Linked DNA regions of Homo sapiens. The protein of the gene in region 3 binds, or shares a complex with, the protein of the main gene of each other region. Each region holds a gene or a part of one and is shown on either strand. Other genes may lie near its edges.

Region 1 (3,895 bases), on a different chromosome or scaffold from region 3:
CTTCCAGCTCCTTAAATCTGGCCCCCGCCCTCCCAAGCTCCCAATAAGGCCTTTTGTGGGGAAGCCTGTGGAGTGTTTATTGGAGCTAAAGCCAGGCCATTATTAGCACTGCCTAAGCCTGTCCGTCACCTCAGCAGGGTGAAGGGCCAATTATAACAAAAGTAGGTAAGGGGCTTGCCTCCTCTCTAATAAGGGAAGGAGTGAAACCACTACTTCTGAAGGGACAGAGATACAAAATTCCATGTTGTGGGAATGTCCTTCCAAGTCTTAAACAGCTTTTAGGGCAGGTGAGAGCCTCTGCTCCTATACCAGCACATAGTCTCGACAGTTGTGCTGCCGTTCGTGTTTTGTGGGGAGGCGCAGTGTCTGTAGGCCGTGTGGCTTGCAGAGTGTCTTTCGGCCCAGGTAAACGCCGCTGTGAAGGACTCCAGGAAAGCTGCTCCCATCACAATCCCCCTGCCTGACAGCCACAGGTAAGAACACAGAATGCACCCACAAGATGGAACTGAAAGCAAATTAATTTATAAAAAAAAAAAAAAGAAAGAAAGAAAAAAAGAGAAAATTTACAGAAAACTTTGAACAGAAGAAAGGTGCTAAGACGCAGAGGGAGAGAAACATGGGGACATGAGGAACAAAGGGCCTGGTGGGAGGAACCAAGAAGAACCAGTGCAGAGCCTGGAGTCACACCTGCCTTCCCGTCACAGGGGAGAAGCTGGGACACGTGGAGCAGGAATGCGGGAAGCAGAGTTGAGCTGCGAGCCAAGGGTTGGTCCAACCCAAGGTTGGGCACCCTCTTCCACTGCTCCCAAATCCCTGCATCCTCATCTGGGGAGCCCCCAGCTATCAGCTGAAGTTCTCATAGTCTTGGTGGGAGAGGGAGGAAGCTAAGGGGTGACCCACCAAGTCATAATATGGAGGTGCTTAAGTGCTTTAAAAAACAATTTCAGGTTTTAAAACTTCACATCCTCTTATAGCTCCCTTCTCTGTGCCTTCCAGGAGTCCATGGATACAGCCCAGGGAAGGAAGGAGAACAGCCCCCAGTGCCCTTTCTTCTCCTATTACCTACCACAGAAATCCCCGAAATTAGGTTTTCCCCACCAAATACACATACGCTGACATCAACTAAGCAAGTGACTTTTAAAAACAAAACTGACATTCAGAGGGAAAGGAATCATTGGCTGAGCTGGGGTGGCCTAAAACAGCAACAATGAGGAAGCCGCAGGAGGGATTATTAGTACGAATGAACTCGAATAAGCTCAGCGTAGGGTGGGGGAGGGGAGTTGGGGCCTTGACTTAGTCACTAAAAAGGGGCTTGGGGAGAGATGGAATCTGCGCCCTGTTCTATCCCCAGAGCTCTCCCTGGAATCTTAATTCCCCTTTCCTAAAACTCACTCCCCCTCAAAAAATGTAAAAATTGGTTATTTTTTAGTGGGTAGAAGGGAGCTCCAATGTGGCTTTTTAAAATCTACTTTTTTTTTTTTTTTTTAATCCATAGAAAATGCAGTAGTTTGGAGGGAGGTGTACCCTTAGAAGTGGTTAATAGAACCTTGTATAAACACCTTTCACCAGCCCTTCCTTTAGGGCAGCATTCCCATCCTATCCTCTCTCCCAGACATTATAAACATCTTTTAAACAGAAGTCCTTGAATAATCTGATATAAAAATGCATGCCTCTGTTAGGCATGGTGAGGGCTTTGGAGGGGCGGAAGGAGCTTTCCTTACGTAGTGATGAACTCTCCAGGCTGGGGAGGGTCCCAGTGGTGGGGGAAGGGCTGTTCCTGGAACCGTGATGTCCACAGGGGGTGAGGGGGAGAGATGTCTGGCTGGCTCCTCACTGTGGAGGTGGCACAGGGGTGACCGTGCCTGGGCTCGGGGCTGTGGGGTCTGGAGGCAGGGGGGTGCCTGGGTCTGTGGAGAAAAGGAAGATAAATCAGTTAGAGTACGCCGGAGAGATGGCTCCAGACCCAGACCACCACAGACAGACAGAACCGGGCATGGCATGCAGTGGCTGGGTGGATGAATGAGGTACCCATAATGTTCAACTTCTGTTCCCAACACTCTTTTCTACCTCATACTCAGAAAAACATATAGAAAGACTCTCTATATGGGGCATTTGAACGTGATAGGAATAAGCAAAGGGATGCCACTCAATCATCATGCAAACAGCTGCTTTTCAAGTTTACAACTGAGATGCTCTCTGCCACAGGATTGCTCCATGACCCACCAGTGAAAGGCCCCAACATCATCCCAAAGGTGGCAGCTGCCAGGCTGGGGAATGGTGGAGGACGGCCAGAGAGGCCCTTCCTCCTGTATTCTAATTTTACCAGAGTGTTCAAAAAGGATTGTGGAAACTCTAATACCTGACCTCTTCCCCACCTGCCCGCTCACCCTCCCTCCAGGTGGACCCCTCTCCCTCACCCTTCTCCCCTCTTGGCCCCTTCTCACCTGGCAGTGGGCTGGCACTGGGCAGGAGGTTGCCCTGAACAGCTGCCACAATGGCAGGGCTTTGGGCTGCGGCGGATCCGAGCCCCGGCCCGAGAGGCAAGGAAGATGGCATGGTGGTGGTCGCCGGCAGGTTAGGATGTAGAGGGTTCGCCATGGACACAGGCAGGTTAGGTGGGGGGAGAGTGCCCGGGGCGAACGGGAGATGGTGGTGATGCCCATGCAGGTTAGGAGGAGCGGGGAGGTTAATACTGATGGAGTCAGCTAGACTACCAAATGGGATGATGGATGGAGCAGGAGGAGGAGGAGGAGGCGGCATGCCAAAAGGCAAACCCAAAGGAGCATTACCCGCCACGCCTGGGTGCCCGCTGCCTGGCACTGCCCCTGGCATCATTGAGGGAGGAGTTTGTTGGTTGGGGAACGGTGAGGGGCCTGAGAATAAAGATGAGAGATGGAGAAAATTAGGTATAAAATTTTGCTTAACAACTCACCTTTTCTATTTTTTTTTTAGACGGAGTCTCACTCTGTCACCAGGCTGGAGTGCAGTGGCACGATCTTGGCTCACTGCAACCTCCGCCTCCCGGGTTTAAGCAATCTCCTGCCTCAGCCTCCCGAGTAGCTGGTACTACATGTACGCACCACCACGCCCAGCTAATTTTTGTATTTTTACTAGAGACGGGGTTTCAACATGTTGGCCAGGATGGTCTCAATCTCCTGACCTCGTGATCCACCCATTTCGGCCTCCCAAAGAATAACTCACTTTTACAAACAAGGATAATCTAGCCATTCCTTGGCACTATCTTCCCCTTTTCTGACACTAGAGTAAGTGAATAAAATTCCAAAGCTCTCGAGTTTGGGGAAGGACTCCTGCTGATTTAGGGGCCTAAGAGAGATGGGCCCATCTGTAGAAATTGAGGCTAACCTCATCTCCACACTCATCTTGTATCCCCTTTGAGGAGAACTGGGACATTCACCTGGATTCCTCTAGCCAACAAAAGTTCTGGAACATAACACTTACCATGGGGTCCAGGGGGGGGAACCCCTGGTGGGACTGCCCCAGGCTGGGGGGCTCCAGCTGGTTGCTGCTGCTGTGGCCCTGCAGTTGACCCTGCCTGCCCAATCTGTTCAGAAGGGCCCAAACTTCCTGGAGGGGCCCCACTGCCAGCAGGAGCAGGGACTACAGAGGCTGGAGCCACAGCCAAGCCATGGACTGCGGGTGGCCCAGCAGCCCCTGTTGGGGGGATAGGCTGGGAGCCTGGGGGCAGGGCTGGTGGTGGCTGCTGCTGCTGTTGGTGCATCTGTTGGAAGTGCTGCTGCCGAGCCCTCATCTCCGCATACTTCAGCTGCTCCATGTGGAAGGCTTGTCTGTCGGCCAGGAGCTGCTGCCTCTGATACTCCAGCTGCCAGTGCCAATTGAGTATTGTTATCCAATTTTCAGCAGATCCCAAAGGCAA
Region 2 (5,395 bases), 5.1 Mb from region 3:
TGGGAGGCTAAGGTGGGAAGATCACTAGAGTCCAGGAGGTTGAGGCTGCAGTGAGTTATGATCGTGCCACTGTACTCTAGCCTGGGTGACAGAGCAAAACCCCACCTCTAAAAAAATAAACTTAATTTTTTGAGATGGAGTCTCGCTATCACCCAGGCTGGAGTGCAGTGGCGTGATCTCAGCTCACTGCAACTTCTGCCTCCTGAGCAGCTGGGATTACAGGTGCGTGCCACCATGCCTGGCTAATTTTTTGTTTTTACTAGAGACAGGGTTTCACCATGTTGGCCAGGCTGGTCTTAAACTCCTGACCTCAGGTATCAGCCCACCTCGGCCTCCCAAAATGCAAGTGCTGGGATTACAGGCGTGAGCCACTGCACCCAGCCTAAACTATTCTTAATTGAATGTGGGGGAATTACTCCATGGTAAGGACCCAGGGAACCTATGTAAGACTGGTTGATCTTGCATGTCCTCCAATATTCTAAAAATAATTCACACACAAGTTTATAAACCAGTCTTTAGTTTCGATAAAGGATTAACCTCCCCCAACATCCTTGAGAAAGTATAGGAATCTGGTGAGACCCAGCTGGCTTTGGCTCTCTTTATTAGAGGCACACCTTCGTGAAGAGCAGGGCGTTCATCTCATGGCAGACACAGAATCCTCTTCTTTTGCTTCACTCGATTTATAAGCATCCTGAAAACAATCACTTCTTTTTTTCTGCACAGGGTTTATATCTGTGAGTACCCAAAAGCTGTCCCCCAAGGTTCACAGAATCTTCTGCCCTCAAGGCCTGCCTCCAACTTGGGACTGTCTAAACTGCATCCTGACAAACATTATCCCATTCACCAAGCAAAGCTATTTCTCACACCTGGAGGTGCCAGGATGTTGGCCATCATTTTTGGAGAACTTCCACTCATTTTCACTTTGACCATGCAAATGAACAGTGGGTGAGGTACCCTCAAAATGTATGTTCCTTACACATCATGAAGGTGGGCAGTCGGGAAGGAAGCCCGAGTCACAGAATTTTAACTGCTGATCAAACCAAGACCAGGTGGGGCCAAATGTTTAGGTTCTTCATAGGATATATGAAGAAACTGGTGTATGAATGCAGAGAATGGGACTAGAATCCAGAAATGGTGTTCCATTTATTCACTGAAAAAGAGAGAGATTAGGCCTTCTTCATTCATTTTCTCCATTCTTGCCAAACTCCCTCCCCTCATTTTTTCCAAAATAACAACACACTGAGAAACATGTTTGTACAAAAACCACATATTATTCCCCCCCCTCACAAAATCAGGTGGCTGAATTACAGGAATAAAACCAGATCAAAGACATGAAAAGAAAAAGCCACCACTTATACTGAAATATAACAGTGTTAAGAATTCAGGTATTTTGTAGAATTATTACTATAGTAAAAATATTTCCACCTGGATCTTTTAAATTTGAAAGTGATCACATTAAAGACCTGAGGTTACAAGGGACCACAGTATGAACCAGAATTCCATTTTCCTTCTCGGACTCCAGGGGAAAAAAGAAGTATTTGGAATGAGTTTCCTTTGGGAAAGACTGGCAGGAAGTAGGTAAAACCCTGGCCATTGTCAAAAGGCACTGGGGTCTTTCTGGAGCCAAATGCATTGGAACTAAGCTCCAGTAGGAATAAACTCATTCTCATTTCCACTCCCAAGAGTCCAGAACAAAAACAAAAGGACCAAGGTCTCCTCGGTTCCCGTATTCCAGTACTCTGATGGTGACCAGGGACACCTGGTTAGAGGCAAACCTGAGGGTTTGAAAGGCAAATCTCAATTGTGGTTTTATTTTTTTGCTTTCTGATATTAAGGAAAAAAGTTCTCAAGTGTTTTATAAACACCTCCCTATACCCTCTCATATGTAAAGCTTTAGAAAATATATAGAAAAAGATATCCAAAAGATGTCCACCTTGCATTCTAAATAATGAAACTGCCACTTGAGAATGTGAAGTGAGAAAGCCAGGCGCTTTGGAAACCAAGCTCTACCAAAAACACCCTTTCCCCACACATGGAAGGACAGAAGGGAGGGAAGGACAAGAGGAAAAAACCGGGAACTCTCAAGTCACTTATCAGCAGGGGTAAATACGAGCTCAAATTAAGGCATTTTTGTGGCTTGTCCTCTGGAATGGCATTCTACCCTCCCAGCCTGAGCACCCCAAACCTCAAAGCATGATGCTCTGACTGCCAAGTGAGTTCCTTGTTACCCTCAGCATCTCTTTGAAAACCCTGTGATAGATGGAATGTGAGATCTCAGAAATGGAAGGGAGAAGGTATAAGGAGCTAATATCCTGCTTCACTTTTCCCGTCCCATCCTAACCTTAAAAGTACCGGTTGACGAAATTCCACTCCCTGGCTACTGTAACAAGAGGTAGTTTGGGGACTTGTACCCCCAGCCATCCTAACCAAGTTTCATGAGCTAAAATATTTAGCACTATCTACTTTTTTTTTTCTTTTAAAGGGTTTTTTAAAGAGGGAGAAAAAAATGCACACAAAGCAGTGAATAGTAGGCTAGACTCATTGGGGGTAATTACCCTAGACTCCTAACTTTCCAGGCTAGTTGAGGAAACTAAGGAATGCCTCCCAATATTCCAACCCTCAAAGCTCACACTGCCCCCAGAAAAACAAAACACTCACCCCCAATCCAATGAATCATCTGCATAGAAAACCAGAGCCAGCAGGCCTAGGGAAGGAGCGGATGTTTGTGCCCTCCTCTAGCACATACTAGTTCAGTGGTATGTTCTGCCAGGCAGTGTGGAGGCCCTCAGAGGCCTCACTAGGGAATAAAATCACTGAGGTTCTCCTTCCACATCTCGTTTAATTTTCACAAATTTGTGTGTGGCAAAAGTCTCAAACTTTACCATCAGCACCATTCTTAGCTCAGAAAAGCAGAAATAAGGTCACTTATAATGCCTTAAGGTTTGTCCCCTGTGGCTATTCCCCCCCTTCTGCCCATCATTATTTTTTGGTTCCTATTAACTTAGGATGCTCTCCTTTAAAACAATAATAACAGAAAGATAAAAAGATAATGATTATATAGCATTATCCATAGAAGCATAAGACAAAGCAAAAAACTGCAAGAGAGCAAAAATGGTAAAGACATAGCATGCTAAAGTTGACAGGACCTGCAGAGAAACTGTCAGCTTACTCCCACACCAGGACAGGGGAGATGCAGGTTATTTTAAGGATGACCAGGGCACACTGTCACTACAGGTTTCCCCTTGAGTGTTGGCTGAGGACCCAACACAAAAAGTGTCAGAGAGAGGGGTGGTAAGAGGAGTGGGGAGGCACGGGACACGTGCTTGGAGCTGTGAGAAGAAAAATCCTGAAAGAAACCCAAGAAAGTTGAGGAACACAAGTCTTGTCATCCCCACTCCAGCTCATGGTGGTGGGCGTGGAGGTTCCCTGCATCTTCCAGGCTAAGGAGCAGCTGAGGCTGGCGGGCCAGGAGCAGGAGGCGGAGGGACCCCATCTGCAGGTGGTGGTGGCGGTGGCTGCTGCTGTGGTGGAGGGGGATCTGCAAACATATCCAAGAGTAACTCGTTATTGCTGGAAATACAAGAGACTCAGGAAAGAGCCTATTCAGTGAAAAAAAGACACAGAAGTCCTTTCCTTAGTGGCAGGCAACCAATGCACCCTGTGAGGCATTGATTCCACTGTGGTCTATGCAAGTCAATTCCTTCTGAACCTCTAGGGCACTGCTCAAGTTGCTTAGCCTAACCCTAGTGGCTGGGGAGTGGGAGGTGTCTGAATTTCCCCCACCCTCCTTCCAGGCCAACTCCTTCCAAGAATCGCTCCAGGCCCTTTCAGAAGTTAATTTTGATTGCATTGTATTTCAAGGGTTCTAATTTTATTTCTTCAGTTAAAAAATAAGCTCCTTCCTGGGACAGTTCTATGTCTTGTTTTTCTTCCCGCCCCCCCCCCGCCCCCACAGTCCCTAGCCTAGCTGGGCACAAAATAGATTATCAATAAATTCTTGCTATATAAATGTCTCCACCAGGGCCAGAGAGCTTCACTTGAGGCAGTTGCTGACAAACTGGATAGTCCAGGGAGGCCTCCACAGCTCCTGAACTGCAGTCCTTCGATTTTTGGCCCAAACTAGGTCATGTCCTGAAGGGAACAATTAGTATGAGTGTCTGGGACTCTTTCCTATTTCAACTTTACCTGCTTTAGTGTACAAAAGAACCCGAGAGATCATTTAATCCGGGTTTTAAAAACCCCTAGATCTTGTCAGAATTGAAAACATATGAAATAAAGTGCAGCATTGCTCACCAATCAATTCACCCAACTCTATGCCCAAGAGGTTTCTACCAAACCCTTAAGACTCTTGAAAGCATTCTGAAGCTCACTGATCTAATCCCTTGTGTCATCTTTCAGTGGAGGAAATGAAGGGCTGAAGTGGAGAAGCAACTCATCCAGTGTGGCCTACCTAGTATCCTAGAACCAATTCACATGGTTCAGAATTCCAGAGCACTGACTTATGGCAGGAACCAGGCAGCAGGTGGGAAGGTTCCACCTGAAACCCTCCACATTCTCAAGGAGCTCTACTGAGGTCCCTTTGGGAAGGAATCCTGAAGTACAAAACATGGGTGACCAGCAGGACATGACAGTGGTAAATTGGTAAAGACCAGTGATACTACCTCTGCAATAGGGATGGAAAACTGGTCAACTCTCTTGATAGGCGAGCTCATTTATGTATGGTCCACAGGGTGGCTTGGCAAACATTTTCTTGCCAAGAAAAAGAGGTACCTACTGTACTACACAACCACTGACCACTAGCTTAAGGGAGATAATTTTAAAAAGTTGTTGTGATCTTATATACCTAGATAAATTAGTGTCTTTCTTCTGTGCACCTACTTTGTCCCAGACTCTGGGGGCCAGAGAAGAGTCAGACATGTCTCTGTCCATGAAGCCTCCCAGAGTATTAGAGTGTACTTAAGGCACATCACAGTCTCATGTAACCTTTGGTAAGTTCTATATGCCTTCATTTGCTAAGTTCTATCCAAGTTTTCATTTCTTGTTTTCTCAACTAAAGCTCCTACAGAGCAAGAATTCTTATGCTTCCTATCTCTCTGAACTATAAATAGTAGCTAAACTTTTGGCCACACGTGAACTTCTACATGAACCTAAGATTACAGATGTGGCTGGGGTACCTGACCTACTACTGGCTGCATTTCAGCATCATCCTCACTGGGAAGGCCTTCTGGAGTAAAAGGCAGGCCAGGGTCTCAGAAACAACCCTCAGGCCAAGGCTGAAGCCGAGCAAGAGCCTATGGGAGAAATGACCTGGTCTCTAAACACAGCCTCAGACAAGTATCACTTAGCAGCACTAGTGTTGTCCTCATTGAGCTTGCTGGAACTTCGTATTTCCTCT
Region 3 (7,580 bases):
TCCTAAGTCTTCCACCTCTGATTATCAGCTTGATGTTGTCTGATTAGTTGATGTAACCTCTCAGATCTGTTTCATCTCTAAAATAAGAACGTAATGCCGGGAGTGGTGGGTCATGCCTGTAATCCCAGCACTTTGGAAGGCCGAGGCCAGTGCATCACTTGGAGTTCGAGACCAGACTGGCCAACGTGGTGAAACCCTGTCTCTACTAAAGAAAAATACAAAAATTTAGCTGGGTGCGGTGGCTCATGTCTGTAATCCCAGCGCTTTGGGAGGCTAAGGCGGATGGATCACCTGAGGTCAGGAGATCAAGACCATCCTGGCTAACACGGTGAAACCCCGTCTCCACTAAAAATACAAAAAAAATTGGCTGGGCTTGGTGGCACGCACCTGTAATCCCAGCTACTTGGGAGACTGAGGCAGGAGAATCGCTTGAACCCGGGAGGCGGAGGTTGCAGTGAGCCGAGATGGCACCACTGCACTCCACCCTGGACGTCAGAGCAAGACTCTGTCTCAAAAAAATAATAAAAAAAAAAATTAGCTGGCTGAGGCAGTGCATGCCTGTAAACCCAGTTACTTGGGAGGCTGAAGCATGAGAATTGCTTGAACCCAGGAGGCAGAGGTTGCAGCAAGCCGAGATCATACCACTGCACTCCAGTCTGGGTGACAGAGCGAGACCGTCTCAAGAAAAAAAAAAAAACAACATAAAGTGAAATCACTTCTGCATGTTCCCCAGGCACAGGAACAGCATATTCATTTTTGTAGACCTGTCTTACAGGATAGTATTTGGTATAGGTTATGTGCTCAGTTTATCTTTTAATAAATGTATTAAAAGTGCACTTAGGGCCAGGCACAGTGGCTCATGCCTGTAATCCCAGCAATTTAGGAGGCTGAGGTGGGCAGATCACCTGAGGTCAGGAGTTCAAGACCAGCCTGGCCAACACGGTGAAACCCCGTCTCTATCAAAAATACAAAAAATTATCTAGGCAAGGTGGTGGCATGCACCTGTAATCCCAGGCACTCGAGAGGGTGAGGCACGAGAATTGCTTGAACCAGAGAGGCAGAGATTGCAGTGAGCTGGGATTGCGCCACTGCACTCCAGGCTGGGGGACAGAGTAAGACTGTCTCCAAAAAAAACAAAAAAAAAGTGCACTTGAGACCTTCAAAAAAAAAAGTTTATTTGTATAGTTTAAAAGTCCTCAGCCAGGCACAGGGGCTCATATCTGTAGTCCCAGCACTTGGAGAGGCTGAGGCAGGATGACCGCTTGAGGCAGAGAGTTCAAGACCAGACTGGATAACATAGATTGATCTTTTCTCTACAAAAATTAAAATTAGCTGGGTGTGGTGCTGCACATCAGTAATCCCAGCTACTTGGGATGCTGAGGTGAGAGGACTGCTTGAGCCTAGGAGCACAAGGCTTCAGTGAGCCATGATCACTTTACTGAACTCCAGCCTGGGCAACAAAGTCAGACCTTGTCTCAAAAAAAAAAAAAAAAAAAAAAAAAAAATGCCTGTAAGCATCCCTTCAGCAATTTTGTCTTTCCATGAAGAGGAAAGACAGATTCCAGAGTTCAATGCCAAGTTTTAAAATGGCCTTGATTACAGTTACAAGTTCAAAAGTCTAACAATCAATAATTTATAGTGGACAGTTAAGAATACTTAATAATGTGCAACTGGGAGAATATCGACTTACTATAGACAAACAGTGTATTTCGACCGTTTATGAACTTTAGCCCTCTCCTATATTTCTAGTAATATTTAGCAATACAATACATGTTTAAAACAAAATCTTGGAAAACAGGACTCAAAGGAAAAAAAACACCTATAAACCTACTTCCAAGAAAAAAACCACTCTTAACGTTGTCATTCGGTTTTTGGTATTTATGCCTTAGTTACCTATTATTTTTTACCAAAATGTTAACAAACCACATATATTATTCTACAGCCTGTGTTTTAGTGAAGGTTCTTCCAAGTCAACATTCTTCCTCATGATGTTTGATGACTTGATAGTAATCTATCATATAGATACACCACAATTTACTTATCTTGGGAATTTTGGTAGGATATTAACATTTGAGGTATTTTGTACATTCCCAAAGCCAAAGAAAGCGGTCAAGGCCCTTCCATTCATCCACACATAAACTCTTTATTGTTTTAATTTGAAACACCTCTTCAAAACATATTTTCCAATCTTCCATTTTGGAGCTCAAAATCAAATATGGGCGACCTGTAAGTAATAAAGCAAAAATTATGCTACTCTTTTATGTGCATGAGTCCAATTTGCACTTTTTGGGGAAAAGCACATAGCCAAATGGAGAAAAAAATAATACCTAAAATTATTTGTCAAGAATCCTGTGTTGGAAAGTAAGTTAATTAAAACAATTCACCCCAACATACGCTTCTATAATTATTGTAAGAATTTCTATATCCACTATACCGTGTACTTATTTTTCAGGGCTTTTTCTATATTTTTGCAACTCTTTCTTCCCCTTTAAATTAAAACTTATTATAATAACAAAACTGTGCTTCCCCAAACCAAGAAATATACACAGTTCCCAAAATCCCGGATTCTTTGTGGTGTTGAGAAGCTGAAATATCTGGCCTCTACTATAAATACAAGTCCCATTGATTAAAATACCCGGAAAAAATACGGAAAGAAAATCACTAAGAGTTTGTGTCGAACCGTCAAGAAACCACAACAAAAAAAAGAGGCCCTGAGCAACGGAGGAAATGAAGGACTTTCCCGACCTGTCACTGGTATTGGGGACTGAGGGAAACGTTGACAGCTTTGAAGCTGCCCCGCGACGAGCGGGAAAGAGGAGCGCGGGGAGTTTCCGACCCGTAGTGCGCCTTTGTCCCTGCCGGCAGGTGCGACAAGGCTACTGGGCCCATCCGGAGGCCAGCCGCCGCGCCCCGCCCAACCCCGCGCGCCCGGCCCGACCCGCGCGTCCCCACGGCCGGGGCGGGGCTTCCGCCGCGGCTCCCGCCCGCCCGGGCCCACACAAAGGCCCGGCAGCTGACCAAGGGGGAGCGGCCCCACCCGCCCTGGGCCCGGCCTTACCCAGCCGCTCCGCCGCCTGCAGCCCCGGCCGCGGTCACCGACCGCCGCGCCCCGCCCCGTGGCCGCCACGGCTGCTGCTATTGCTCCTCCGGCCGCGGCCGCTGCCGTCGCTTCGGCACCCGCCGCCCTCACCTCCCTTACCCCTCCCGGTGCCGCCGCAAAACCAGTCCCGCGGCCGCCAAGCGATCCCTGCTCCGCGCGACACTGCGTGCCCGCGCACGCAGAGAGGCGGTGACGCACTTTACGGCGGCAGCGTAAGTGCGTGACGCTCGTCAGTGGCTTCAGTTCACACGTGGCGCCAGCGGAGGCAGGTTGATGTGTTTGTGCTTCCTTCTACAGCCAATATGAAAAGGCCTAGTAAGTGGGGTCGGGAGGCGGGCGTGGAGGGACCCACGTCTGGAAGTTGCTGCAGCCACCACGACGCTCTTCTACGGCTACGGCTTTGTCTCTGCTGGTATGGGGGTGGGAGCCTACGCGTAGGCCTTGGCCCTATTTCCTGGTAGAACCGAGAGTTGGAAGTCCCTACGGCGATCATGTTAACCGCGCGGGCTCATTCTGCGGAACGAAGCCGGGCAGAGGGTGGGGAAGACTAGGCTAGATTTTCGTAAGGAAGCAGCGTCTGAGCCAGGTTTGAGGCCCAATATTTTCTTTCCGTGGCCACGTGCAGACTGGCCCAGGTGAGAGCTGAGAATCGCCTCCCAGACTCAGTGTTCCTCTCCTGCCTTATGATTCGTGCTGTTTGACACGAAGTGGTTGTCGTTTTGTGTCTCATACGCTGTTGTGTATGATCCCATTCTAATATTGTGAGGGTAAGTGCAGGGAATTTTGACTCCATTCTGGATCTACTGAATTTAATTCTCTGGGATTTGAAAGTAGCACGTATGTTTGCATTAGGCATTTCGCATTAGACTTAACGTTAGGTTTGGTAGCCAATAACACAAGAAAAGGATATAACTCCATAGTGCGTTAACCCAGAACTAATCATTTGGGTTAACAGATTTGTGATGTGTTTCTTTGTAGAGTTAAAGAAAGCAAGTAAACGCATGACCTGCCATAAGCGGTATAAAATCCAAAAAAAGGTAAGTGTAGTGCTTGAGAGAGCTGTACCAAACACATTGCTAAACTGATTTTGCCCTGTTCCTTTGCGGGAAAGTCTGGGTTAATGTGATTTGGTTTTGGGAAATGGCATTGGATAGACTGACCATGGGCACAAGCTCTTAGGCATCAGGAGTGCAGCTGTGAGAAAGTGCAGTGATTTGGTGATAAGTCTCTAAATTTGTTCAGCATGTTAATCTCTGCATAGAGAGCCTTCTAGTTACAATTTCTTGCTGTTTTATACTTACATATGCATTACTTTGTAAGATTCCAATTAAAGCTCCATTTTCCTAGGACATTTTATAGGCATAACTAAATTGCAGCCAGATTGGTTTCTCACTTGAATTCTGCTTAAGTATAAAGATATTTTTGTAAGCAGACAAAATCTCTTTATTTTAATAGGTTCGAGAACATCATCGAAAATTAAGAAAGGAGGCTAAAAAGCGGGGTCACAAGAAGCCTAGGAAAGACCCAGGAGTTCCAAACAGTGCTCCCTTTAAGGAGGCTCTTCTTAGGGAAGCTGAGCTAAGGAAACAGAGGGTAAGTTATGTTAGCCAGAATTTTCATTGAGTGGTGTAGTGTGTTATGTGTGATATTTTTCAGAGTAAGGTAACAACACTAGTCACTGGTTCACCTATTTCCCTTATGGCTCTGACAGCTTGAAGAACTAAAACAGCAGCAGAAACTTGACAGGCAGAAGGAACTAGAAAAGAAAAGAAAACTTGAAACTAATCCTGATATTAAGCCATCAAATGTGGAACCTATGGAAAAGGTATGATTAGGTCTCTTTATGAATGAGAGATCAGGGGTTTTGATTTTGGTTTTTTTGCTTGGGCCTGAGTGCAGTGGCACAATCACAACTCACTGCAACCTGGACCACCCAGGCTCAAGCAGTCTTACCACCTCAGTCTCCAAGTAGCTGGGACTACAGAAGCACACCATCACGCCTGGCTAATTTTTTTTAGCAGACACGGGCTTTCACTATATTGCCAAGGCTGGTCTCAAGTGATCCACCCAACTCAGCCTCCCGAAGTTTCTGGTATTACAGGTGTGGGCTGTTGTGCCTGGCTGAGAGATGAGTTCTGATGCAGAAATAAAAGCACATCCACAGGCTGCTGAGCTTCTTGGGAGGAAGACAACTGAGTTCAGACTCCATCTTACCTATTTAACAACTGCAAGGGCTGCTACTCAGCTGTGGAAAATGGAGTTAGAGGTTACAGTTGCTCTACTTCTAATTTTGTGTTATTTCCCCCTTTATCCTCTAGGAGTTTGGGCTTTGCAAAACTGAGAACAAAGCCAAGTCGGGCAAACAGAATTCAAAGAAGCTGTACTGCCAAGAACTTAAAAAGGTATCTTAGCCTAGGTCAGTGTCTGACAGTAGTAATGAGGTTTAAAAGACTCAAGTCATTTTTTTTTTAACCTTTTAAGATGAAGGGTGCATGTGCAGGTTTGTTATATGGGTAAACTTGCGTCATAGGGGTTTGCTGTACAGATTATTTCATCACCCAGGTATTAAGCCTAGTACGACATTAGTTATCTTTCCTGATCCTCTCCCTCCTCCCACCTTTTCACCAACAAATCATTTCGTGACTCGACTCTAGCTTATGCTGTTTAATGCCTTTCCTGCTATGTTTACCTGACGGAAATAGTTTCTTTGGTTCTAAATATTTGCACAAAACTGGTTCTGCCTGTAAGCATGATTTACAACATTAAAAAAAAACGTTGACATAGTGTTGAGATTGAGAAAGGTACATTGGAGTAAGCAGTGTCAGGCTAAAGGTCTCTAAAGTACTCTGTTGAAACCTAAGTGAAGGAGGACAACTTGGTGTAGTTGCTCTCCAGCACTCCCATCCCCAACATCCATTTTCCCAAGCTCACTCCCCCATGGATAGAACCTGACTGCCCCTCAGCAGCTTTTGGCAAGGCCAGAAGGACCTATCAAACTATATAATTCACTATGGGAGGATTCAGACAGGGATATTTGCATTTTTGAAATCCATCTTGATCAGAGACTGCTGAGCAAGCCTATGTTTTACTTTCCTGTGTGAGAAATGATGAGGGTCAACATTCTTCATACCAAAGTGAAGACATGAGATCCAACTCTGAGCTCACCCTGTTGCTAAATGGATAATGCCAGTACTCTCTTGTGGAAGGTATTACCAGAACAAGGGATGTAGTTCTGATCATTTTCTCCTTGATAATGTAGTTCTGGTCATTTTTTCCTTGATAGGTGATTGAAGCCTCCGATGTTGTCCTAGAGGTGTTGGATGCCAGAGATCCTCTTGGTTGCAGATGTCCTCAGGTAGAAGAGGCCATTGTCCAGAGTGGACAGAAAAAGCTGGTACTTATATTAAATAAATCAGGTGAGTAAAGAGGGTACCCTTTGTCTTCTGTGTACATGGGTGAGGTACGAGGAAACAGTCTGATAGTCACTGAAGACTGATTAGATCCAACTCTGATCTCAGCAAAGCCAGAGTACGTGCACTTTGCCAGAGACAGTGCTAGGCAGTGGGGAGCCAGGTGACTTTTACAACTGACTCAACTGGTTTCTACTATTCTTTTGCCATTCAGTATTTACCATCTTTTAAATAAAGAGTGTAAGCTGCTATACCCAGCTTATTGTGTAGTATATTTCATCTAGGAAGTGATGACAGTGTGACAAATTCCCCACACCTACACAATGTCGGGTATTAGTTCAAGAGTGAAATAAATTGGAACGTATGTGACAAAATATTTAAATGAAATGCATAATTATGCATCTGAGTTTGAGCAGCAGGAAAAAGAAAACCCAGAACAGAGAATTACAAAGCAGAAAATGGGAATGAGATCTAAAATTGTTGTTGGGGTTAAGAAACAATTGGCTGCTTGGGAGGCTGAAGTGGGCACATCACTTGAGGCCAGGAGTTCGAGAAAAGCCTGGCCAACACGGCGAAACCCCATCTCTACTAAAATACAAATATTAGCCGGGCATGATGATGGGCACTTGTAGTCCCAGCTACTCGGAAGGCTGAGGCAGGAGAATTGCTTGAACCCGGGAGGCGGAGGTTGCAGTGAGCCGATACTGTGCCACTGCACTCCAGCCTGGGCAACAACACTTCGTCTCAAAAATGAAGAAACAATTGGCTGCTAGCTAAAGGTAAATTCTGGAAACATAGCTCTAGGGTTAGTAGGGTTGTAATCCAGACGTTGAGTCTGTCCTGAAGTTTTCAAGTGAGCAATACAAGGGGAATTGAAATAGAGAAGTGCAGATGCTGAGCTCTGTTAAGATACGGGCAGTATGGTAGGGGAGCTTACCCTGCCCTGATTTTCTAGTTAAATCCTTTTGAAAGGACTGGGAAAATGTAAACCAGAGTAAAATCTATAGTTGCCAGATTTTGCAAATGCATCTCAACAAAATAGCCACATTGGAGCAAATGTCTTTTTCTTT

Evidence for each region. Proteins that work in one complex are often made in the same cells at the same time.
Region 1: PBRM1 (region 3) and SMARCC2 share a complex: the UniProt entries of both Homo sapiens proteins name them as parts of the SWI/SNF-B (PBAF) chromatin remodeling complex.
Region 2: PBRM1 (region 3) and SMARCC1 share a complex: the UniProt entries of both Homo sapiens proteins name them as parts of the SWI/SNF-B (PBAF) chromatin remodeling complex.

The regions. Positions count from the first base shown.
Region 1 is NC_000012.12:56,161,859-56,165,753, forward strand, and holds the end of SMARCC2 (SWI/SNF complex subunit SMARCC2), read right to left. Parts: intron 3,842-3,895; coding exon 3,460-3,841; intron 2,874-3,459; coding exon 2,445-2,873; intron 1,908-2,444; coding exon 1,831-1,907; 3' UTR 501-1,830; downstream 1-500. UniProt on the Homo sapiens protein: Involved in transcriptional activation and repression of select genes by chromatin remodeling (alteration of DNA-nucleosome topology).
Region 2 is NC_000003.12:47,584,769-47,590,163, forward strand, and holds the end of SMARCC1 (SWI/SNF complex subunit SMARCC1), read right to left. Parts: intron 3,539-5,395; coding exon 3,441-3,538; 3' UTR 501-3,440; downstream 1-500. UniProt on the Homo sapiens protein: Involved in transcriptional activation and repression of select genes by chromatin remodeling (alteration of DNA-nucleosome topology).
Region 3 is NC_000003.12:52,682,691-52,690,270, forward strand, and holds the start of PBRM1 (protein polybromo-1), read right to left. Parts: upstream 3,224-7,580; 5' UTR 3,059-3,223; intron 2,910-3,058; exon of another isoform or gene 2,746-2,909; intron 2,225-2,745; exon of another isoform or gene 1-2,224. Other genes in the region: GNL3 (guanine nucleotide-binding protein-like 3), read left to right, coding at 3,403-3,415, 4,079-4,137, 4,556-4,693, 4,812-4,925, 5,419-5,502, 6,384-6,516. UniProt on the Homo sapiens protein: Involved in transcriptional activation and repression of select genes by chromatin remodeling (alteration of DNA-nucleosome topology). Required for the stability of the SWI/SNF chromatin remodeling complex SWI/SNF-B (PBAF).